Regions from separate parts of the Homo sapiens genome. Here all the other regions are linked to region 3. Evidence: fine-mapped expression QTL. A gene starts in region 3. Each other region holds a variant in brackets. All regions are shown on one strand. Distances are between the middles of the regions.

Region 1 (4,000 bases), 26 kb after region 3:
GGCCCAGGGGGCCTAGGTAATCTACTCAAGGTTACACAGCTAGAAGCAGCAGAGTCAGGTCCAAACCCATGTCATCTGCTCTAGAAGCCATGTTCTCCACCATGATTCTGTGCTACCTCCAGTGGAGGAAAGGAGGGAGGAGGGAAGACCCAGCTGGTGTTTGGAATTCTGAGCCCTGATGGCGAATCAGTCACCTTCAGGATCTGACCCTCTCGGAAGGGAAGCTCTTCTTCTCCAGCATCAGGATTGGGCGACATTGACACGGGGTCATAGTCAAACAGAGCCACAAAGATCCTGACGGGTAGGTGCTGGTAAGCCAGTGTTTCTGAGGGGCTCCTCGCAGGGACTGTGGAGACAGTGGAGAGGGCGGTGACGCAGCGAGCTCTGGCCGAGCAGCTCTAGCTCCAGCCCCATCAGGTGCTCACCTAGCTCTGCAGTGCTTGGCCTGAGGACTCGGACACCTCTCTTCTGGGGGCCCCTCCGCCCAGAGCCGTCCTGCCCTCTGGCCTCTCCGGTCTCTGTTGCCTGCAAAAAGAGGGCAACAGATGGCAAAAGTAACACACCATCCCTCTGGTGGGCTCGTGCTCCCCCAGCTCTGCCCCATCAGCGTAAGCAGCACAGCAGCGCAGGAGCACAGCATTCCTCTCCCGGAGCCTCGGCCCAGCCTGCTGGAGACCTCAGACACCCCCACAGTGGGAGGGAGGGCAGGAGGGGAGGCCCCAGCCCCAGCCTGCGAGTAGATGAATGGAGTAGAGGGGACTGGAGTTGGCTGAGGAGCCCGCGAGAGGAGGGCCTCCCGTCAGCATCAGGGCAGGTAACCCTGGACATGGCATCACAGTCAGCGTCCTGAAGCCATTACTAGCTATGCAGAGGAAAGGGCGACCCTGCCCACAGGCCGCAACAGGCGACTAGTGATAGAATATTGTGCATCCCAGTCCTGATCAGCAGAAGCAGCAAAGCAGTGGAATGTGGGTGGGAGGAGGCAGGTGAGGGAGCCCGGAGGCCCGGCCCCACCTCTGCTGATGGAGGCAGGCAGCGTGGAATGGGAGCTGCTGGTGGGCAGCAAGCAGGGCCACCAGGTGGCAGCAGGCAGGGGCTGCCCAGGGCGGGGAGTGAGCACGGACCCGGGAGAGTGGCTCCTTGGCTCTGCCCGTCGCACTGCGGCCTCTCCGCTCTGGTTCCCCTTTCTCCCAGGCTGGGAGGCGTGGGTAGGGCTTGGGGCCTGAATTGGCCTTCGGAGGCCCCCTGGGCCTTCCTACAGTTGCTGTGCCCCAGGCCTCCCCATCTCCAGGGTAGCAGGAGCTGGTGATGCTGATGCCCCCGCTGCCCGCCTCCTGCTCATCCTCCGAATCATATTCAATGCTGATTTCCAAGCACTTGGGGGAAAGGCAGCTGGCCAGGCCAGGCTCCAGCGCCCGGCCACGGGAGCACCTCCGGGAAGGGCCCAGCCGGCCTCTCCCGCTAGCCTCTAGTCCAGTCCTGGGGCCCTCAATTACGGGGAGGCCACCCCTCTCCCGTGTGGGGCCCAGTCGTCCAGAGGCCTGGGGCCCATTGTTGCTGAGAAGTCGGCTGCAGTGTTCTCGGGGATCTGGAGGCCGCCTGCGGCTTGGGGGCTTCTCAGGGGAGCCCCCTCCTCTCCTCCGGCTGCTTCCACCAACTAATCCAGGCATGTCTTCCAGGCAGTCTCCAGCCCTGGAGGACTCAGGAGACAAGGGACACTGGCCAGGTCTTCGGGGCTGACCACTGTCACAGCCCAGCCCCAGCAATGCAGGTTCAGGCGGGCCAGGGTCTCGGGAAGAACAGCCTGCCCCTGACTTCTCCTCCTCCTC[G/GTCCTCCTCT]TCCTCCTCTTCCTCTTCCTCCTCCTCCGGGATGCTAAAGAGCTTCTTGCTACAGAACTGCTGGAGGGGCAGCTCCAGGATCTGCTCCAAGATCTCCTCATCGCTGTCAGTCTCACAAAAGGGGTCGGGCTGGGACTGGTGGAGGTGGGGAGGTGGGAGTAGAACACAGCAGGGAAGAGAGATGCGTGGGGAAGAGGAGAGCGAGCTGCGATCTTTGCCCTCAAACGAAGGCAGGGGTTACGGACAACCCCACAGCCCTCCCACGGCTTCCTCCGAGAGGAGAGAACCAGAGGGACGGTGGCTGGCCCAAATTCACACACATATCCAGTGAGAGCCAAAGGAAGAATTAGGGAACACACTCTAGGAACCATCACCAGCCCCTGTGGGACAGGAGCATTGAGGAGCAGGCCTCCCCATCCCCTCCCCAGAAGCTACCAGCACAAGGATCTTAGGTGGCACCGGCCTCCCCTGGCCAGGGCGCTGTATCTGGTGGGCTGGAGGGAGAGAAGGTACAGAAATGAACTCCTCCCCTTCCCCTTTCTTTCCAGGAGGGCAGGGGCCAATCCTGGGGCACTTCCTATCTTCTGCTTAGGACAGGGCCCAGGCCACAGACCTAGAATGTTTCTGGCACTCAGTGGTGGTCAGAGCACCTGCTGACACACAGTGGGGAGGCCCCGGAGTTTGAGGCCTGGGGCCCAACAGCCCATCCCTACCCCGTTACCTTGGCCCCATTCTCCCTGATGCTGTTGCCAGCAACCTGCTTCTGGAAGGAGCAAGTCCTGGAACCCAGCTCCTCTTCCTCCTCCTCCTCCTCCTCTTCCTCTTCCTCCTGGATGTCTGACAGGTCTGAGTTGCGGCCGTGGTCCACGAGGGAGTTCACCAGATGAACCCCAAGCTCTGCTGTGTCCTCCTTCTGCAAGAAGTGAGGCAAGGCAGGAGAGATAAGGACAGTGAGGGGGCACAGGGGGTTCCAGGCAGGGTCAGCCCCAGCCACAGTAACAAGGGTCCTTTGGCAGAGGGAGAAAGAGCCATGTCCTAAATGGGGGAGGCACACCATGGCTCAGGGGCAGGGTGGGAGAAGGGAGATGGGAGCCACATGGGACAGAGAAATCCTAGAAGAAAAACAGACACATAGCACAGCCAAAGGTGTGAGAGCAGGACCAGAGCAGAGGACAGGCAGAGAGGGCAACTGGATTTGCGCTGGCAAAAGGTAGGGAGACAGGCCTCAATTCTCTGAAGTGACACAGTGTGTCCCCAAACCCCTACCTCAGCCCTGGGCCTCAGCCCAGACCCTGGGTCTCCTCCTTGGCACATCTCGGTATTTGGCGCCTGCTGGGCCCGTGCTCCCTGGGTGGAGCTGGAGGCCGGACAGGCCTCTCCTGCAGTCCACTCGGCCTCCTGCTTGGCCAGTGAGGGAGCTGCGGGGCCAGGGTCCTTCTCACCCAGGGTAGATGTGCTGGCTGTCCTCTCCTCTGAGGTGCCCAGCACTGCTGCCCCAGCCTCCTCCTGGAACAGAGAGCACTGAGGAAGGACCCAAGCCCAGGTCCCTCTGCCAGCCTGCACCTGCTCCCCTCTCCCCAGACAGGGTACCTGGGAGCAAGGTGCTGGAGGGTCCTCGTGGGACCCTTTTGCCATCTCTCTGGAAGGGCTTGCAGGGGGTGCTCCTGGAGGCTCTTGAGTTCCAAGGGGAGCAGGGTGCTGGAGAGGAGAGCTGGGGTCTCCAGGCCCTGGGGAGGCTGAAGCAAGGGGCGCTCTGGCCTCTGGGCTTGGGTGCGGTGAGGGGCAGGAGACTCGGGCTGGCAGGCTGGCCGGAGCCAGGGCGGGAGTGATAGGAGCCGGGATGGAGTCCGCCGACTCCCCGTGGGGCGACATGGTGCGCACGACCACCTCACGACACACCTGCAGCAGCTGCAGCTGGGACAACTCCACCAGTACACTGCCTGCCGTGGGTGAGGCCACCTCCATGATCTGCAGGGTGGAGGGGGCACAGGATGGGAAGCAGAGGCTGAGACAGCCAAGCGTGAGGATGCACTGACAGCAGTGGCAGCTAACTGACAGCAGTGGCAGCTAGCATTACGCCAGGTACTGTGCTAAGCCCTCTGCATGGCCTATCTCATTTCATCCTCCTGGCCATATGGCTTCAGTGATGGAACAGTTCTAAAATCTGTCAT
Region 2 (4,000 bases), 22 kb before region 3:
GTGGGGGTTTTTTTTTTCATCCTCTTAAGAAGGTCTTTTGTAGAGCAAAAGCTTTTAATTTTAATGAAGTTCTTTTAATCAAATTTTCCTTTCCTGGATTGTGCATGTGATGTCAAGTCTCAGAACTTTTTTCCTAGTCCTAGGTCCCAAAGACTTTCTCCTGCTTTTTCCTTCTAGAAGTTTTATAGTTTTATGTTTTACATTTAAGTCTATGATCCATTTTGGGTAAATTTTTGCATAAAGTGTGAGGTTTAGGTCAAGATGCTTTTTTAAATTTTTTCTGGCTATGGATGTCAAATTGCTCCAGCACCACTTATTGAAAGGCTATTGTTTCTCCATTGAATTGCTTTTGTTTCTTTGGTAAAAAATATTTGGGCATATTTACATGGATCTATTTCTGGGTTGTCTATTCTCTTCCATTGGTTTGTATGTATGTCTATTCCTCTCATACCACAGTGCTCAATTACTATAGCTATACAGTAAGCCTTAAAACACTTTATTCTTCTTTTTCAAAATTGTTTTGGATATTCTAGGATCTTTCCCTTTCCATACATATTATTAAATAAGTTTGTGTATGTCTATCAAAAAACCTTATGGAAATTTTGATAGAAATTGCATTAAAATTATATATACATTTAGGGAGAGTTGACATCTTTACAATGTTGAGTTTTCCAATCCATAAACTAAGTATGTCTCCCCAATCTTTAGATTTTTTATTTCTTTAATCAACATTTTGTAGTTTTATCACACAGATTCTGTACATGTTTTGTTAGATTTATACCTCAGTATTTAATTTTCATTTTGTTTTGTTTTGTTTTGAGACGGAGTCTTGCTCTGTCACCAGGCTGGAGTGCAGTGGCACGATCTCGGCTCACTGCAACCTCCCGGGTTCAAGTGATTCTCCTGCCTCAGTCTCCTGAGTAGCTGGGATTACAGGCGCCCGCCACCATGCCCGGCTAATTTCTGTATTTTAGTAGAGACAGAGTTTCACCATGTTGGCCAGAATGGTCTCAATCTCTTGACCTCGTGATCCGCCCACCTCAGCCTCCTGAAGTGCTGGGATTACAGGCGTGAGCCACCATGCCCAGCCCAGTATTTCATTTTCTTTGGAGGAATTATAAATGGTATTACAGCTTTATTGCAGTTTCTACTTATTTTATCAGTGTATGAAAATATAATTGATTTTTTTATGTGTTGATTTTGTATCCTGTGACCTTGCTAAATTCAATTAGTTCTAGGCATTCTGCTGTAGATTACTTGGATTTTCTAAACAGGTAATCATGTAATATGCCAATAAAGACAGTTGTGTTTCTTCTTTTCTAATCCATATGATTTTTCTTTCTTTTTCTTGCCTTATTACGTGGCAATTCCTGGAACTTCCTAGTGGCTCAAACTTCCAATACTATATTAAATGCGCATGGTAAGAAAGCAGGCATCCTTGTCTTCCCAATCGAGAAAGTATTCAATCTTTCACCATTAAGTATAAGATTAGTTATAAATGTTTTGTAGTTGCCCTTTATGAGGTTGAGGAAGTTCTGCTTCATTCCTAGTGTAATGAGAGTTTTTATCATGAACAGGTGTAGAACTTTGTCAAACGGTTTTTCTGCATCAATTGATAGGATCATATGATTTTTATCCTTTAAACTATACTGCTTGCTTTGGATTTATTTTGCTCTTATTTTTCAAGTTTCTTGAAGTAGAAACTTAGATGACTGATTTGCAATCTTTTCTATTTTCTAATGTATTTAGTACTATAAATTTCCCTCTTAGCACTGAGTTGACTGCCTCCCACAAATTTTGATATATTGTGTTTTTATTTTCATTCAGTAGGTATTTTTTAAGTTTCCTTT[C/T]GGACTTCATCTTTAACCTATGTATAATTTAGAAGAGTGTTATTTAATTTCCAAGCGTTTGTAGATTTTCCTGTTGCCTTCCTGATTTCTAGTTTGATTCCATCATGATCAGAAACTATACTCTGTATGATTTCAATTTTAAATTTGTTAAGATTTGTTTTATAACCCTGCTGTGGACTATCTTGTTGAATATTCTGTGAGTTCCTAAAAAGAATGTGTATTCTGCTGTTGTTGAATGCAATGTTCTGTAAATGTCAGTTGGATCTGTTGGTTGATGGTGCTATTCAGTCTGTACTCCAGCTAATTTTCTGTCTAGTAATTCTCCCACTTACTGAGAGTCAGGTGTTGAAATCCCTAGCTATAAATGAGAATTTGCCTATTTCTTCTTCCAGTCCTGTCAGGTTTTGCTTCATGTATTTTAAAGCTTTAAAGTTCTGTTGTTTGATCCATATCATTTAGGATTGCTTCATCTTCTTGATGGATAGATCCTTTTATCATTATGTAATTTCCACTTTTGTCCTCTGAAGTCAACTTTATCTGATATTAATATAGTCACCCCTGCTTTTAAAAATTTATGTCTGCATGATCTTTCTTATTCCATCAATTTCAACCTACCTATGTCATTATGTTTGAAGCGAGTTTCTTTTAGACATCATATAGTTGGGTCACTTAAAAAAAAAAAGGAAAAGAAATATACTCTGCCAATCTCTGACCTTTAGTAATTAGTACTTTTAAATTATCTTTAAAATAATTATTAACATGTTAGGGATTAAATCTCCCATATCTCTCATTTTATTACTTGTTTTCTGTTTGTTCCTTCTGTTTCTTCTTCCTCTAATATTGTTTTTCTTGCCTTCCTGTGGGTTAATTGAACATTTTTTAGAGGTCCATTTGATCACATATTGCTTTGTATAATTTTCTTAGTGGTTGTTCTCCGGATAGATAGGTAGATAGATATAGAAATAAAGATAGAGAGAGAGATAGAGATATGGATTTACAACGTATCACAACCTATTGGTGTCAGTGCTTTATCATTTCAAGTGACATGTAGAAAACTCATTTCCATTTGGTCCCTTCACCTTCCCCACTTTTGAAATATAATTGTCTGAAGCATTTCTTCTATATATGTTTTATAGCACATCAGATGGTGCTTCAACCATAAAATATAATGAAAAAATTCATGAGGTGGAAAAGAATTGATGTTTACTTCTATTTTTACCCATTACATTGTTCTTCTTTCCTTTCTGAAGGTCCTGTCCTTCTTCTATTACCATTCTTCATGTTTAGAGAGTTTCCTTTAGCCATTGTTTAAGGATAGGTCTGTGTGCAGCAAATTCTCTGAGTCTTCCTTTGTGTGAGAATGTCTTTATTTCTCCTTTATTCCTGAAGAATCGTTCCACCAGCTATTGGATTCAGGGTTGGTAGTTCTTGTCTTTCGGCACATGAAAAATGTGGCGACACTTCCCCTGGCTTCTGTGGTTTCAGATGAGAGCTTCACCGATATTTTGTTTGTTTGTTTATTTCTTTGTTTCTTTGAGACAGAGTCTTGCTCTGTTGCCCAGGCTGGAGTGCAGTGGCAACATCTCGACTCACGGCAACCTCCGCCTCCCGGGCTCAAGCGATTCTCTTGCCTCAGCCTCCCGAGTAGCTGGGATTACCGATGCTCACCACCACACCTGGATAATTCTTTTTGTATTTTTAGTAGAGACAGGATTTCACCATGTTGGCCAGGCTAGTCTCAAACTCCTGACCTCAGATGATCCACCCGCCTCAGCCTCCCAAAGTGCTGGGATTGCAGGCGTGAGCCACCACACCCAGCCCTTTACCATTACTTGAATTGGTGTTTCTTTATAGGTAATGTGTCATTTCTCTTTGACTATTTTAATACTTTATGTTTAGTTTTCAGAAATTTAATTATGATATGCCTTGGAGTGAATTTCGCTGTTTATCCTGTTTGGGATTCATTCATCTTCTTGAATCTGTAAATGTGTGCCTCTCACCAATTTTGAGAAATTTTCAGGCATTATTTATTCAAATCCTTTTTCAGTTTCACCCCCTTTCTCCTCTGTTTCTGGAACTCCATTGATATGAATGCCAGATCTTTTGTTATGGTCTCACAGAACCCAGAGGCTCTGGTTTGTTTGAGCAAT
Region 3 (8,142 bases):
AGGCACGGTTGGAGGCCCCCAGCGTGGGGCTGCGTCTGCAGGGGAGGACAGGGCGCTGACACCGGGAGGCTTGTGGCGTCCGGGACGCCTCTCTGAGCCCGGTTCCTGCAGCCACCCCCAGCCAGCCGCACCTGTTGTTGCACATCCCGGTGATGGTGCGGTATTTGTCCTGCTCCGGGCAAGTCACCCCCACGTCCTGGTAGGCGCAGCCGCTTGACTTGGACAACACATTCAGCTGGGCGGGCGTCAGCACATCTGCCGGGGGAAAGAACAATGGGGGAGCTGAGCCGCCTCACTTCCTATCCCAGGCAACCTGAGGCTGAGGAGCCCTGGAGACTCCTGAGACTCCCTGGAGGAAGAAGTTGAGGGGATCACTGAGAGACGGCTGGGGTCCCTAGGAGGAGTCACTAGTGGAGCAGGGACCTGGGGTGTGATGGGCAACAGTACCAGTGACATTGAATGGCCTTCGCCACAGGGACCGCAGCTTCCTCTCCAGCAGGTCTAGAGCCACGTGCAGGTAGTCAGCGGCCCTCACCGCCGTCCTGGTGGCTGCCACCGGCTGCTTGAAGTAGGATAGGAGTTCCATGGGGCTGGCTGAGCCGCTGCGAAGCCGCTGCTTGATGCTGCTTGGAGAAAGGAGGAGTGAGGGCCAGAGAAGGGATACAGACCCACCCAGCAGAGCCCCAGCCCAGGGGCAGACATGCAGGACCATGCAGGCAGGCCCACGGGTGGGAGGAAGGCTTCCTTTTATAAAAAGGATATGGACCTGGGTGTCCAGACAGAGGCAAGGCTTTGGGAAGGATGGCTTTTAAGCTGTTCTCCCATCCAGAAACACAGGGACAGACAGACAGAAAGGGAGTCCACATGGGTCCCCATAGTCCCCCTCTCCCACCTTCAAGCTCCCTGCTGCCTGCTGCTTCTCTGAAAGGCCTGGGACATCCTTGCCCAGAGCTGGGCAGTGCCTCGTGCCCCACCTTTCCCGCCGCTCCTTGTAGGCCTTGTCCACCAGCTGCTTGGCCTCCTCCATGGAGCTCAGCACCAACGAGGTGTCCACCTCCCCCAGGACAGCTGCCCAGAGCAGGGATCACAAAGTCAGGAATGGGCCCCAACCCCCTATCAGGCCCCAGAGCTAGGAAGGCCTGCTCTGAGAAAAGGGGTCTCTGGAACACAACCACCCCAACACACCATCTTCTCCCACCTTGGGAACTGTTACCTGGAGCAGCACCTTCAGAGGGCTGGGGCGTGGCCAGAATGGCCAGGAGCCCTGCTAGGGCCAGAAGCAGCTTCATCTCTGCAGTGAGACCCCCAGCCCAGCAAGGTCCTAAGTCCACCATGCATCTGAGAGAAGAGAAGAAGGGAACCCCCATCTCTCTTCTCCTGGGCTGCTCAATCCCCCTTTGTACCTCAGCCCCACCTCAGAGGGCCCTGTCTATGGATAAAGCCAGACCTCCTTGAGGGAGGGGCTCACTGCTCTCTTATCCCCTTGCCAGCTGCTGTCATCCAGCTTCCAAGGACCCCACCTCCACAGCTCACCTGATATTGTCAGCTCCTCTTAGCTCAATCTGCGCTTTTATGTCCTCTAAGCTGGGGGTGGGGTGAGGTAGAGGAAGGTCTGATCCTGGAGACTGAACTCTTTCTCCTCCCCCACTGGGGTTGGAAGGTACACACAGAGGGGCCCCTGAAATGGGGGGAAGGGGCAGGAAAGGAGGGGCCAGCATTGTCCCCAGCCTTTTTTTTTTTTTTTTTTGAGACGTTATCTTGCTCTGTTGCCCAGGCTGATGTGCAATGGTTCAAGCGATTCTTCTGCCTCAGCCTCCCGAGTAGCTGGGATTACAGGTGCCCGCCACCACGCCCTAGCCTCTAGCCACATCATCAATTATTTCCTTAGGCAAGAAGTAATTTTTGTATTTTTCCTTAGGCAAGAAGCTAATTTTTGTATTTTTAGTAGATACAGGGTTTCACCATGTTGGCCAGGCTGGTCTTGAACTCCTGACCTCAAGTGATCCACCCGCCTCAGCCTCCCAAAGTGCTGGGATTACAGGCATGAGCCACTGGCCCCAGCCTGTCCCCAGCCTTTGAATTTAGCACTACCAGCCCAAGATTTCTCAGCTCACCATTGTGTGCCTATACCAGTGCTTGTCCCCAGGGGATACACACAACTAACCCCTCTGAAATTCTGGTTACACTGGTTATCCAGGGTTCCTTTGAAAGGAACAAAAGTCAGGAACTGGTAGCCCAAGGAATTGCAGGGAATAGAGTGCCCCCAGGGAAGACAGGAGGATGAAAGGGAGACCTGGAGTAAAGATGACCCAATTGGCCTCAGGTGGCCATCCCCCACTCCAACAGTAACCTGCATCCAACAGCCACCCAATGGGCAGCCTCTGGTTCTTGGTGGGGCTAAGGGGACAGGAAATCTGGCTGGAGACCGTTGGGCTTCACAGGAAGGAGGACCCTGGGGACTGTGGGCGCAGGACCAAGATAACTTCCTCTATCCCTCCTCACTCCCCTTTCTTCTTGGCTTCTGGTAGAGGGCTGTCTCCAAACTCCTCCTCCCCACCACCATCTGCTCCTGGATTTCAGGAACCAGGAGAGAGCAGAACTGGTTGTGGTTAGTGATCAGTTAGGTGATGCAGCCCAGGGCCTCTCTGGGACAGGATCAGTGCAGTTGGGAGGACTTGGGTTAATGATTCAGAATAATTCTGAAACAGAAGAGGATATTTCTTGCTTGAGAAAGCCCAGCAAAAGGGCCACCAATCTCAGCAGGAAAAGTACTACGACTTTTGACTGAATCAGTCTACCTCTCTGGGCCCTGGTCAGGCTGAGCTCGTGCCAACCATGCCTCCCATGTCCCATTTAGGTTCCCCCTCCTACCTTCAGCCACCTTCCCGCCACCCACTCTTTTTTTTTTTTTTTTTTTTTGAGACAGGGTCTCTCACTGTTGGCGGAGCTGGAGTACAGTGGTGCAATCTCGGCTCACTGCAACCTCTGCCTCCTGGGTTCAAGCAATTCTCCTGCCTCAGCCTCCCAAGTAGCTGGGATTACAGGCGCCCGCCACCATGCCCGGCTAATATTTTGTATTTTTAGTAGAGATGGGGTTTCAACATGTTGGCCAGGCTGGTCTCAAACTCCTGACCTCCTCCTGATCCACCCACTGTTGGGATTACAGGCGTGAGCCACCGCGCCCGGCCCACTCTTGTCTTCTATGCCCAGACCACCTCTTGGCCAAGGGACAAGGGACAGCAACACCCAGAATATCTTCCCAGTGTGTCCAGGGATTCTGTCCCCTGCTGAGAAGGGGAACCAAGCTTTTGCCCTGCCAGTGACTTGCTGTGTGTGAAGTTGGTCGAGTGGCTCTTTGTGAATCAAGCTCTAGAATTTTAGAGGCTTTTGGAAATGATTTTTCAATCCTTTAAGTAATATAATTTTCACTGATGAAAAGTTTGAGAACACGAGTATGCAAAAATAAAAATAAATCAAAATTACTCATCATCAAGTGAGATTGTGGGTACTTTTTTCTTTCAAGGTTTATCATTGTCTTCACATAAATAAACAATAGGAAGGAAAATAATTGCCCATAATCCCACCACTCACCAATACCTCATTTAAGAATTTGATATCCTATATGTAAACATAATATATATTTTTAAATATTGATAAGAAGAACTTTAAATATTGTTTTACCATCTACTTTCGGTACTTAACAATTTTAGTCTGAGCATCTCCCTGTGTCAATAAATACAGGTTTACTTCATTTTTATGTCTGTATAATATTTCATATAACTATTTTATATGATTTATTAACTAATTCTATCTCATTAGATACTTAGAGTTGTTTCTGATTTTCATTATTATAAGTAGTACTAGGATAAGCATCCATGGAGTTAAATCTCTCGCCACATCGTCAATTATTTCCTTAGGCAAGAAGTAAAATTCCTGCGTATTTGGGTATGCGTGTTTTAGGGCTTTTTAATATTGATAGTCAAATGGCCTGCTGAAGATTTTACCTCATCCTCCCATCAGCCATGCATGAGAGCACCTGTCCCCTGTCACCCTTGTCAACCTTGAGTATGCTTGAGTGTCCTTTCGCTCTTTTAAGGGAATTGTCAAGGCTCAACAGGGGAGAGATATTTAATGCAAGCCCCTTATTGTAGAGCTGAGAAAGAAGGAGCCCAGGGAAGGAAACGACTTGACCAAGGTCAGCAGTGTGACACAGTTCAGAATAATCTCCATGCCCAGTCTCCTGACTTCCAAACCAGTGCTCTTTACCCAGTAGCCTCTGGACACCTGTTCCTGACCTTTCATTCAATGATTTCTTCAACAAGTATTTACTGAGCCCTTGTCATTCAATGATTCCTTCAACAAGTATTTACTGAGCCCTTGTCAGGTGCTGCGCTGGGCATTGAGCATTCTCCACTGAGCAAAGCATGAGCCTTATCCTCAAGGAGCTCACAGAGGGGAGCAGAAAGGCAAACAAATGGCACCCCCAGAACCAATGCAGGGACCTTAGGGAGCAGCGAAGAGCAGCACTTGGATCAACTGGGGGAGGTCAGTGAAGGCTTTCTTGAGGAATTGATTCTGGAGACTGTCTTGAAGAATGTCTCAAAGCTGACCAAGTAGACACAGAGGAAGAGCATTCTGGGCCCAGAGAATGACACTGTCGGCTTCACTCAGTTCCAACACAGGGAGAGGGTGGACAGGGTGAGGCTGGTGGGCCAAGCAGAGGCCCAGGATGCAACATTCTCGCAGACCTACTGAGAAATTATTGTCCCGAAGCCCCAGGGAGTCATGAGGTCTGTGAAGCGGAAGTGCATGGTCCAAGTTACTTTGGAGAGCTCACCTGCTCTGGTTGCAGTGTGGACAGTGCGCTGGAAAGGCAGGCCCAGACACAGAGACCTGGCAGGCAGCATGTCAGCGATTCACCTGTTAAGAGGCTTGCTCTGCTTCCTCACAGGCAGCAATCAGGCCAGGAGTGTTTGAAAATACTTCTCCAAGAACGACGTTTAAACTCCCTGAGTGCTCCACCCACATAGAGGTGAGAGCACTCCCAAGATGTGGATTCCCCAAAGCCCCTGTCTTTGGCCCGGGGGTGGGTCTGGGGATGCACATGTGTGTGCCAGGGCTAGAGATGTTCTATGACTTGACATGTTTTCAACCAATTAATAATGACCCACCTGAGGTTATCCCAAGGTGGTCAGCCTCTCCTGTCTGCACCTCTGTCGTTCCCTCATCTAGGCCCTATTTGTCGGGCCAGGTGTGTTTGAGGCTCAAAGCTCTTCTCAGCATGCAGAGTAACCAGGGGAATGCAGCTCAAGGGAGTGGGAGGGATTTCAAATAAGCTTTGTCCCATGTGAGTTACCCGCCAGTCCCCTTCCTGGGGGTAGGCTCTGGAGGGCACTGCTGGGACTGCTACATCTCAAGACTATAGTCATTTGAGAGAGCTCCCCGCCTCCAACACACTCACACCCCACTGCCGTCTCTTCTGCCCACTTAGAGTTCCCAAATATCCCCACCCCCAGGGTGAAGCCCAGCTGCTGGTGGGATAACGGGCCCTCTCTGCTACTGCTTGCAAAACAGCATGTTGTTTCTTAATGCTGTTTAAGAAATAATTCAGTTGGGATTTCAGCCTGATTTCCTGTGTGTGGTTGGAGAGAAAGAGGCACCCCCAGAAGGCTATGGAAGCTGGGGAGATGGCAGAGGCAGCGGCTGCTTAGACAAACCAGTTTTACTCAGCCCATAGATCTTGTTTTATCTCTCTTTACAACTGTTTTAATTAATTTTGAATTCTATAGGTAATACCTGGATATATTTGGAAAAAAATTTAAAATTACAGACCAAGCTAAAGCTCCTTTTAGATTAGGTTATTGCATCATCCTCAGTTCCAGTCCCCTTCCTCCACTCTTCAGATGCAAACACTGTTGACATTTTTGTATTTGACCTTCCAAATCTTTTAGTAATACTTTACATTCATTCATATTTATGGATCTGTGAGAAATATTCTGTTCCCTGGTTTTTCTCCATAAATGATATTCCATTATACATATTGTTCTGCAATGTGTTTCTTTTACTCAGTGCATCTTTAGATCTATCATGTATCACTTAGAGCGTGATCTCACCTTTTTTTTTTTTTTTTTAAGTTTTTTGGTTTTTGGTATTTTTTAGAGACAGGGCCTCACTCTGCTGCCCAGGCTGGAGTGCAGTGGCACACTGCAGCCTGGAACTCTTGGACTCAAGCCATCCTCCTGACTCAGCCTCCTGAGTAGTATCACACTTTTTTAACTTACATGATATTCCTTAGTTGGCCTGTCTCTCCATTTTGTGACCATTCCTCTATTAATGGAAGCTGACATTTTAACATTGTTTTTCACTATTAAAAACAATCCCTCAGCCAGGCACGGTGGCTCATGCCTGTAATCCCAACGCTTTGGGAGGCCAAGACGGGCAAATCGCCTGAGGTCAGGAGTTGGAGACCAGCCTGGCCAACATGGTGAAACCCAGTCTCTACTAAAAATAAAAAAATTAGCCAGGCATGGTGGTGGGCACCTGTAATCCCAGCTACTTGGGAGGCTGAGACAGGAGAATCGCTTGAACCCAGGAGGCGGAGGTTGCAGTGAGCTGAGATCACACCACTGCCACTGCACTCCAGCCTGGGCAACAAAGAGCGAAACTCCATCTCAAAAAAAAAAAACAAACCAAACAAACAAACAAACAAAAAAAAAAACAATGCCTTGAGAGGCCTTGTTGTACATACACACAAGTGTTCCCCATGGTAAAAATGAAGAAGTGGACCACAGGTTTTGTTCATTTACAATTTTTAAGGCCAGATGCAGTGGCTCATGCCTGTAACCCCAGCACTTTGGGAGGCCAAGGCGGGCAGATCACCTGAGGTCAGGAGTTCAAGACCAGCCTGGCCAACATGGTGAAACCCCGTCTCTACAAAAAATACAAAAATTAGCCGGGCATGATGGTGCATGCCTGTAGTTCCAGCTACTCATGGGGCTGAGGTGGGAAAATCATTTGAATCTGGGAGGTAGAGGCTGCAGTGAGCTGAGATTGCATGATTGCACTCCAGCCTGGGTGACAGAGCGAGACTCTGTCTCAAAAAAAAATAAAAATAAAAACACTGGGCGCTGTGGCTCACTTCTATAATCCCAGCACTTTGGGAGGCTTAGGTGGGCAGATCACCTGAGGTCAGGAGTTCGAGACCAGCCTGGCCAACATGATGAAACCCCATCTCTACTAAAAATACAAAAATTAGCCAGGTGTGGTGGTGCACACCTGTACTCCCAGCTTCCTTGGGAGGTTGAGGCACGAGAATCGCTTGAACTCGGGAGGCAGAGGTTGCAGTGAGCTAAGATGGCACCACTGCACTCCAGCTTGGGTGATAGTGTGAGACTCCATCTCAAAAAAAAAAAAAAAAAAAAAATTTAAGTCCTGGCACAGTAGCTCACACCTATAATCCCAACATTTTGGGAAGCCGAGGTGGGAGGATCACTTGAGCCGAGGAGTTTGGGATCAACCTGAGCAACATAATGAGACTCTGTCTCTACAAAAAAAAAAAAAAAAAAAAAAAAATTAGCTGGGCGCGGTGATACTCCTGTAGTCCCAACGACTTGGGAGGTTGAGGCAGGAGGATCACTTCAGCCCAGGAATTCAGGGTTACAGTGAGCTATGATCACACCAGAACACTCCAGCCTGGGCGACAGAGCAAGACCCCGTATCTAATAAAATCTTAACAGATACGTATTGCTAAACTAGCCTCCAAACTTTGTAAAAATCTCATGAGCAAAGAATGGAATCATATTATTGGTTCAACTTTTATGTATTTGGTTAATAGTGAGGTTGAGCATATTTTTATTTGAATTATATCTTCTGCAACTTTCCTGTGTTTTGTTTTGTTAATTTTTCTATGGTGTTGTCACTCTTTTTATTGATTTGTAACAAGTATTCTATATTCTGGGTAAGCACTAAAGTCCTTCAGTTGTTATGTAGGTTCCAAATTTCTTTTTAGTACATCGCTTTTCATTTATGTTTTTTATAGTGTCTTAATTTCAAGGTGGTCAAATTTATCAATTTTTTTATATGGATTTTGCTTTTTGTTTTATGTATTTATTTTGGATTTCGCTCTTTCAGCTTTTTTTTTTA
Region 4 (8,380 bases), 980 kb after region 3:
AATGTCGCTCTGTCACCCAGGCTGGAGTGCAGTGGTGCAATCTTGGCTCACCGCAACCTCCGCCTGCTGGGTTCAAGCAATTCTCCTGTCTCAGCCTCCTGAGTAGCTGGGATTACAGGCACACGTCACCATGCCTGGCTAATTTTTGTATTTTTTAGTAGAGACCGGGTTTCTCCATGTTGGTCAGGCTGGTCTTGAATTCCTGACCTCAGATGATCCACCCGCCTCAGCCTCCCAAAGTGTCGGGATTACAGGCATGAGCCACTGTGCCCAGCCAAGTTTTTTTTTTTGAGACAGAGTCTCACTCTTGCCCACACTGGGGTGCAGTGGCACGATCTCAGCTCACTGCAACCTCCACCTCCCAGGTTCAAGCAATTCTCCTGCCTCAGCCTCCAGACTAGCTGGGATTACAGGTGCCTGCCATCACGCCTGGCTAATTTTTGTATTCTTAGTAGAGAGAGTTTCATCATGTTGGCCAGACTGGTCTCGAACTCCTGACCTCAAGTGATCCACCCGTCTTGGCCTCCCAAAGTGCTGGGATTACAAGTGTGAGTCACCGCACCTGGCTGTAAGTTTTGAGGGTCAGCCCCTAACCCTGTTTTCCCATAAGCTCTGTTATCCTTAGTGTATGATTTTGCAAAACTCAAGATTTTGCAGTGACTTGTATATTTTGTTACAGCTGAAACACCTGTATGTAAGTAAGCCAAGAACATTACAAAGCACCATGTAAACAAAGGGGCAAAATAAATTCTCAAACTTATTTACTCTATTTTTTAAAAAAATAAAGGAGTAGATAATTTAGAACTATTTATTTATTTATATAATTTTTTAATTTGAGACAGAGTCTCACTCTGTCACCTAGGCTGTAGTGCAGTGGCTCAATCTTGGCTCACTGCAAGCTCCACCTCCTGGGTTCAAGAGATTCTCCTGCCTCAGCCTCCCGAGTAGCTGGGGTTACAGTTGTACGCCACCACGCCCGGCTAATTTTTGTATTTTTAGTAGAGGCAGGATTTCACCATGTTGGCCAGGCTGGTCTCGAAGTCATGACTTCAAGTGATCCACCCGCCTTGGCCTCCCAAAGTGCTGGGATTACAGGCGTGAGCAACCGCGCCCAGCCTAGAACTAACTATTTAAAATAAATTATTTTTATGTGATTTTTAAAAATATATATTATGTTTTTATTAAAAGTTCACTGTAAGCATAATTTTTTTTTCCAGTAAATATAGCAGGGCCTGGCATGGTAGCTCACGCTTGTCATTCCAGCACTTTGGGAGGCTGAGGTAGGAGAAATGCTTGTGCCCAGGAGTTCAAGACCAGCCTAGGCAATATAATGAGATTCTGTCTCTACAAAAAATTTTTAAAAAATTAGCTCGGCATGGTGGTGCATGTCTGTAGTCCCAGCTGTTTGGGAGTCTGAGGTGTGGGATCACTTGAGCCTGGGAGATCTAGGCTTCAATGAGCCATGATCCAGCCACTGTACTCTAGCCTGGGTGACAGCGAGACCCTGTCTAATATATATATATCTATATATAGTACACATAGGAGGGCAAGGAGAGAGGGAATGGAGATTTGTTATTTAATGGTATAAAGTTGGCCAGGCAAGGTGGCTCACACCTGTATTCCCAGCACTTTGAGAGGCTGAGGCAGGTGGATTGCTTGAGCCCAGGAGTTCGAGACCAGCCTGGGTGACATGGTGAAACCTCATATCTACAAAAAATACCAAAAAAAGTAGCTGGGCATGGTGGCACACACCTGTAGTCCCATCTATTACAACTCAGGAGGCTGAGGTGGGAGTATTGCCTGAGCCAGGGTCGAGGATGCAGTGAGCTTTGGTTGTGCCACTGCACTCCAGCCTGGGTGACAGTGAGACCTTATCTCAAAAAAAAAAAAAAAAAAAGGCATAGAGTTGTTTTCACTTTTGCAAAATGAAAAGACTTCTGGACTTTGGTTGCACAACAGTGTGAATATACTTAAAACCACCAAACTGTACATTTAAAAATGATTGACATTCAATTTTGCTGGGTGGCGGGGGGTGGGGGTGGTGAGAAAATAGATTTAAAAAATGATTAAGATCTTAAATTTGGCTGGTGCGGTGGCTCACACTTGTAATCCCAACACTTTGGGAGGCCAAGGTGGGCAGATCATCTGAGGTCAGGAGTTTGAGACCAGCCTGGCCAACATGGTGAAACCACATCTCTACTAAAACTACAAAAAATTAGCTGGGCATGGTGGTGTGCGCCTGTAATCTTAGCTACTTGGGGGGCTGAGGCAGGAGAATTGCTTGAACTCAGGAGGCAGAGGTTTCAGTGAGCCGATATTGTGCCACTGCACTCCAACCTGGGTGACAGAGTGAGACTCCGTCTCAAAAAAAAAAAAAAAAAAATCTTAAATTTTGTGTTATGTGTATTTTAGCACAATTAAAATTATATATATATGTATGTCTATCTTGTATTTTTAAAGTTTTGGGATATTGAGCATATTTTCCAATAGAAACTTAAAATGGTGGTTAGATTCTTGGATTAGTTTACAAATCCTATTTATATTTTATATTTGATTCATAACATAGCTAAAAGATGACACATTTGCAACAGTATTGATATGTATCTATATATACTCATATATAGAGATATATAGCTACATATTTTTTAAACAGGAGTAAAGTTACTGAATATTCCATATATTCATCTTTTCATTTTGTTCCATTGGATTCTGACATGTTTAGTCTTTAGCTGTAAGTACTGTAACCAACGCAGAAGTGGTATTGCAAAAGCAGAGACGGTAATAGAGAAATTTTAGTAACATCATTATACTATGAGGCTCCAAGATCAATCCTGACCCATTTATCAAGGACTAGCCACTATTAAGTGTGGTGTTATTTGCAAATGAATATTCATAATCCCAGGAATGCTTGTAATAGATTTCAACACATTGTCTTGGGAAATACTGAGAGTTGTGAAGTAATCCTCTTTATTTGAGCAGTTGTAAAAATAACATGTAATATTGCTTGTGTCTTTTAGAATTCAGATATTCCTATACTCTTCAGTCTACAACGTGTCCTGCTCATTCTTGGCCTTTTCTTCACTGGCCTCTTGCCCTTTGTGCCCATTCGAGAACAGTTTTTTGAAATCCCAATGCCTTCTATTATACTGAAGTAAGTGGTTACCCTTTTATTTTAAAATCAATTATCAATTACAGAAAGACTAAGATAAAAGCTCACTAATATCAATATCAATGATGAAGAAGAGATTTCTGTAGTGATTTCCATGTTCTATTACCTGACCTATATTATGCATTTTTATATAATTAAGACACATTCTCTAAAACAAATAATCAGGACCCATCTCAGATTATGATTTTCTGTGCCTGTATAGTCAGAAATCAGATAAAAGGAATTTAATTTAATTACAGAAGGTAAATAATTATTTTATTCTCACATCAAATAGCAGTTGCCCTCCACTTTCCCTTATTGCTTTCTACTTCATTGACAGCTTTACCCAGCTCAAATTCCATTAAACTCCAAATTAAACAATGGTATTACTGTAATACATTTAGGAAGAAAAAACCACCACCACCATAAAAACCTCTGGAGATAGGAAAATAAAAGGGTATAGTTAGTTTATATAGGATACTGTTTTTATAGTGGTTTTTTGTTTTTTTTTTTTTGAGATGGAGTTTTGCTGTTGTGGCCTAGGCTGGGGTGCAAAGGTGTGATCTCGACTCACTGCAACCTCTGCCTCCCGGGTTCAAGTGATTCTCCTGCCTCAGCCTCCCGAGTAGCTGGGATTATAGGCGCCCACCACCTTGCCTGGCTAATTTTTGTAGTTTTAGTAGAGATGGGGCTTCACCATGTTGGTCAGGCTGGTCTCCAACTCCTTACCTCAGATGATCCACCCACCTCCTCCCAAAGTGCTGGGATTATAGGCGTGACCCGCCTTGCCCAGCCAGGATCCTTTTATATTTACGTAATTCCACTACTAGAAAAGCCTTGCATTTCACTTGCTAATTTACTAGCAAGATAAAAATACATAGATTGTAAAAATACATAGGTACATAAAAACACTTAGATTGCCTGACAAATACTAAGCACTCAAGAGTGATAGCTTTTATTGTTATCTTTGTTATTATAAAGAATGATAGCTTCATCTCAAAATTCTACACACGTAGAATGTGATTTCTAGCTGTAGATTCATAACTGAATTATGGCAAAGGAATTTGGAATCGTTGGGGAGATGATTTAAATGTGATTTTATTTGCATGAAAACACTTTTCATGGCCGGGCGCGGTGGCTCACGCCTGTAATCCCAGCACTTTGGGAGGCCAAGGAGGGTGGATCACGAGGTCAGGAGATCGAGACCATCCTGGCTAACACGGTGAAACCCCGTCTCCACTAAAAATACAAAAAAAAATTCTCCGGGCGTGGTGGCGGGCGCCTGTAGTCCCAGCTACTCCGGAGGCTGAGGCAGGAGAATGGCGTGAGCCTGGGAGGCAGAGCTTGCAGTGAGCGGAGATTGCGCCACTGCACTCCAGCCTG[G/A]GCGACAGAGCGAGACTCTGTCTCAAAAAAAAAAAAAAAAAAAAAAAAGAAAAGAAAACACTTTTCATATCCAACAGAACTTTAAAAAATCAAGCTGAAGAGCTTTCCTCTTTTATAGCATGTCTCAATAAAGGTAATGACTTGGGGGAAAAAAATAAAGCTGAACGTTAGTGTAGCAGTCATCAGACAATATTGCTAAGAAAAGCAGGCCAGGTGCAGTGGCTCACGCCTGTAATCCCAACATTTTGGGAGGCCGAGGCAGGAGGATCACGAGGTCAGGAGTTTGAGACCAGCCTGGCCAACATGGTGAAACCCCATCTCTACTGAAAATACAAAAATTAGCCAGGCTCGCCTGAACACGGGGGGCAGAAGTTGCGGTGAGCCAAGATCGCGCCACTGCACTCCAGCCTGAGCGACAGAGCGAGACTCCTTCTCAAAAAAAAATAAGAAAGAAAAACAATTGGCCGGGCGTGGTGGCTCATGCCTGTAATCCCAGCACTGTGGGAGGCTGAGGCGGGTGGATCACAAAGTCAGGAGTTCAACACCAGCCTAGCCAACATGGTGAAACCCCGTCTCTACTAAAAATACAAAAATTAGCCGGGCACAGTGGCAGACACCTGTAATCTCAGTTACTCGGGAGGCTGAGGCAAGAGAGTCGCTTGAACCCCAGAGGTGGAGGTTGCAGTGAGTCGAGATGGCTGCACTCTAGCCTGGGCGACAGAGCAAGACTCTGTCTCAAAAAAGAAAAGAAAAGAAAAACAATTTAGTCAGTACTCTTGTGCTCAACTTCTATTTCATGCCTGTTTTCCAATTTCAGTATCTTAGTGATAAACATGTTTATTTTATTTATTCCTAAATTATATTTATGAACATCTTTGTAGCTGTTTCTCAGACAAAACAATAGAAAACGCTTCTTGTCTACCCCCCCCCCCAAAAAACACCCTATTTTATTTGCTAGATTAAAATGATCCCTAAACATTTATTCCTGGCTGGGCCAGGGGCTCCTGCCTGTAATCTCAGCACTTTGGGAGGCAGAGGCAGGCGGATCACCTGAGGTCGGGAGTTCCATACCAGCCTGGCCAACATGGTGAAACTCCCATCTCTACTAAAAATACAAAATTAGCTGGGCATGGTGGCGCACATCTGTAATCCCAGCTACTCAGGAGGCTGAGGCAGGAGAATCGCTTGAACCCAGAAGGTGGGGGTTGCAGTGAGCCGAGATAGCGCCATTGCACTCCAGCCTGGGTGACAGAGCAAGACTCTGCCAATAAATAAATAAATAAAACATTTATTCCTAAAGTACTTAGCTTTCCTCTGGCCTGGAGTGGACTGTTTGCTCTATATTTATCTTCATATGTTCCTTTTAGAAGCAAATATTGTTGAAATACAGACATAAGAACAAACTCCACAGAATTAATATTTTCTCTAAAAAGTGATTATGGATTAAGACACAAGCAGGATATATTTTGTGTGTTTTAATACTTCTATAGAAGACAATGGATATTTTCTAAGACAATATAGTGATTGTTTAATGAGGTAATCAGTATTTGAGCTACTAAATCCCTAATATTCCTGAAATTGCAACCAGGACTTTCCACTGGGGCCAGAGTTAGGGAAAAAAGGACTTGTACTTTATTTTGTACTTTTTTTTTTTTTTGAGACAGAGTTTTACTTTGTCACCCAGGCTGGAGTGCAGTGGCGCAGTCTTGGCTCACTGCAACCTCTGCCTCCTGGGTTCAAGCAGTTCTCCTGTCTCCGGCTCCTGAGTAGCTGTGATTACAGGTGTGCGCCACCATGCCCGGCTAATTTTTATGTTTTTAGTAGAGACGGGGGGGGGTTTCACTATGTTGGCCAGGCTGGTCTGGAACTTCTGAACTCAGGTGATGCACCAGCCTCAGCCTCCCAAAGTGCTGGGATTACAGACATGAGCCACCATGCCTGGCCTACAGATATTTTAAAGGAAAGGAAAACACGTGGTAAACTGCTCACTTTGATCTATAATACAGTTCCGTTGTATGTTTAAATTTGCCACATACTAAATTGTAGGAGACAAAGCAGGAGAAAGATTTCACCAAAAAAGAAACGAGATATGAGCCTAGGGCACCAGGGTCTCTGGAAAGACAATATTTATTTATTTATGTATGCATTTATTTATTTATTTATTTATTTATTACTTTTGAATAGGGATGGCAAAAAGTTAGCTTGAGACCAGTGCAAACAGAACCCAACTGGCCTTTATTTTATTTTTGTCCTTTTTACAAATATTTTTTGAGAATATACAAAGTACAAGGCACTGTTTTCATTTTTGAATTTGTTTCATTTTATCACACTGATATATTTCTGTGTTTCTAATTTGTAATTCAAACTTTATTTTACCCTAGGCTAAAAGAACCACACACCATGTCCAGAAGTCAAAAGTTTCTCATCTGGCTTTCTGATCTGTAAGAATTTTAATTTCTTAATATGCAAGTTATTGCTTCAGCTATATTTATTAAATACTACCCTTAAAATGTTGTGCAAGCTTTCCACATGTAATTTGTAACAAGGACAAATTGAGCACCTGCTATGTAAAATGTGTATGAATCATTTAGAAATATCTTAATTACTAATCACAAAATCTTAGGAAGAATCTTGAGAGATAATGTCCTCCAACTTCATGAGAAAACTGAGCCCCCATATACCCAGTTAAATTATTTACTTGGGGTTATCTAGCTAGTTAGTAGCAGAACTAGGTTAAATAACCATTCCCTTTAGCTTACTTGCTGGTGAAAAGAAGTGTAGCAACACAGTATATATAAAAGTGTATGTTGCCTACAGCACATTTCTCAGAAAAATTTGCTCTGCACCAAGACTTAACAGCAGAAAGGAAATCCCACCTATAGAGTGGATATCAACTTTAAAGTAAATGCCTTAATTTAGACATGATGAGTTTAATTTTAGTAAAAATCACTAAATAATTGTACTATATTTTGCTTTAAGATGGAACCTTGAATGCTTAAATATTTTAATAGTCCCAAATCACAACTTTTTATTATTTAACGCCTTTTCTTCTTATTTTATTTTATTTTATTTTATTTTATTTTATTTATTTATTTATTCATTTTTTGAGATGGAGTCTTTCTCTGTCGCCCAGGCTGGAGTGCAGTGGTGTGATCTCGGCTCACCGCTTCCTGGGTTCAAGTGATTCTTCTGCCTCAGCCTCCCGAGTAGCTGGAACTATAGGTGCCTCCCACCATGCCTGGTTAGTTTTTGTATTTTTTAGTAGAGATGAGGTTTCATCATGTTGGCCAGGCTGATCTCGAACTCCTGGCCTCATGTGATCTGCCCACCTCAGCCTCCCAAAGTGCTGGGATTACAGGTGTGAGCCACCGCGCCCAGCCTTAACGCCTTTTTCAAAGAGTCTTAAACAATTAGTTTTATCTTTTCTCTCTGTCAGTGTTTATTCTTTTTTGCTTTATTCTTGATTTAAGCTCTAGTTTTCAAGGATGCCTTTTTTTTGTACTCAAGTAAAACCAGGATGCATTTTTTTTCTTTTTTCAACCCTATTAACTGACAAGATGCATTGTTAATTGGTGTTAAAAGCACATGATTTCTAGTTTCTGTTATTTAATCATTCTAATAGACATAACAGAATAGAAATAATGTCTTTCCAGTGCAATGAATTCCTATCTTGCTCAAGAGGTTTGTATTTTGAAAGTTCACTTATCAGTGAGTTACTTGGAACAAAAAAATATTTTTTCCCTAGACATAGGATAGTGTAATTAATGGACATAATGCTTCTAACATCGCTTACAAAAGACTAATCCATTGTGTAATGAACTATGATGTTATAGAAATTGACCTGCATTT

Evidence for each region.
Region 1: its variant is fine-mapped to the expression of MPO in whole blood (INTERVAL, PIP above 0.99).
Region 2: its variant is fine-mapped to the expression of MPO in whole blood (TOPMed, PIP 0.99).
Region 4: its variant is fine-mapped to the expression of MPO in whole blood (INTERVAL, PIP above 0.99).

Annotation. Positions count from the first base shown.
Region 1 is chr17:58,307,417-58,311,416 of GRCh38, forward strand. TSPOAP1 (TSPO associated protein 1) reads right to left here. Exons shown (of 32, transcript NM_004758.4): 19 at 3,420-3,797; 20 at 3,096-3,335; 21 at 2,551-2,742; 22 at 1,125-1,964; 23 at 426-525; 24 at 195-346. Among named protein-coding and RNA genes, the nearest start is that of TSPOAP1-AS1, 16 kb to the right of the region's middle. RefSeq lists an enhancer at 2,119-2,818. The variant G/GTCCTCCTCT (reference allele first, on the strand shown) is at 1,830.
Region 2 is chr17:58,259,023-58,263,022 of GRCh38, forward strand. All of the region lies in intron 9 of LPO (lactoperoxidase), which reads left to right. Among named protein-coding and RNA genes, the nearest start is that of MPO, 20 kb to the right of the region's middle. The variant C/T (reference allele first, on the strand shown) is at 1,851.
Region 3 is chr17:58,279,392-58,287,533 of GRCh38, forward strand. MPO (myeloperoxidase) reads right to left here and starts at 1,544. Exons shown (of 12, transcript NM_000250.2): 1 at 1,214-1,544; 2 at 975-1,068; 3 at 448-623; 4 at 132-255; 5 at 1-35. The coding sequence starts at 1,367. RefSeq lists promoters at 1,534-2,128, 1,534-1,674, 2,067-2,468, 2,353-2,578, 2,624-2,824 and enhancers at 2,477-2,494, 4,871-5,486, 5,399-5,655.
Region 4 is chr17:59,264,024-59,272,403 of GRCh38, forward strand. It overlaps GDPD1 (glycerophosphodiester phosphodiesterase domain containing 1), which reads left to right. Exons shown (of 10, transcript NM_182569.4): 7 at 3,018-3,151; 8 at 6,913-6,972. Among named protein-coding and RNA genes, the nearest start is that of GDPD1, 48 kb to the left of the region's middle. The variant G/A (reference allele first, on the strand shown) is at 4,532.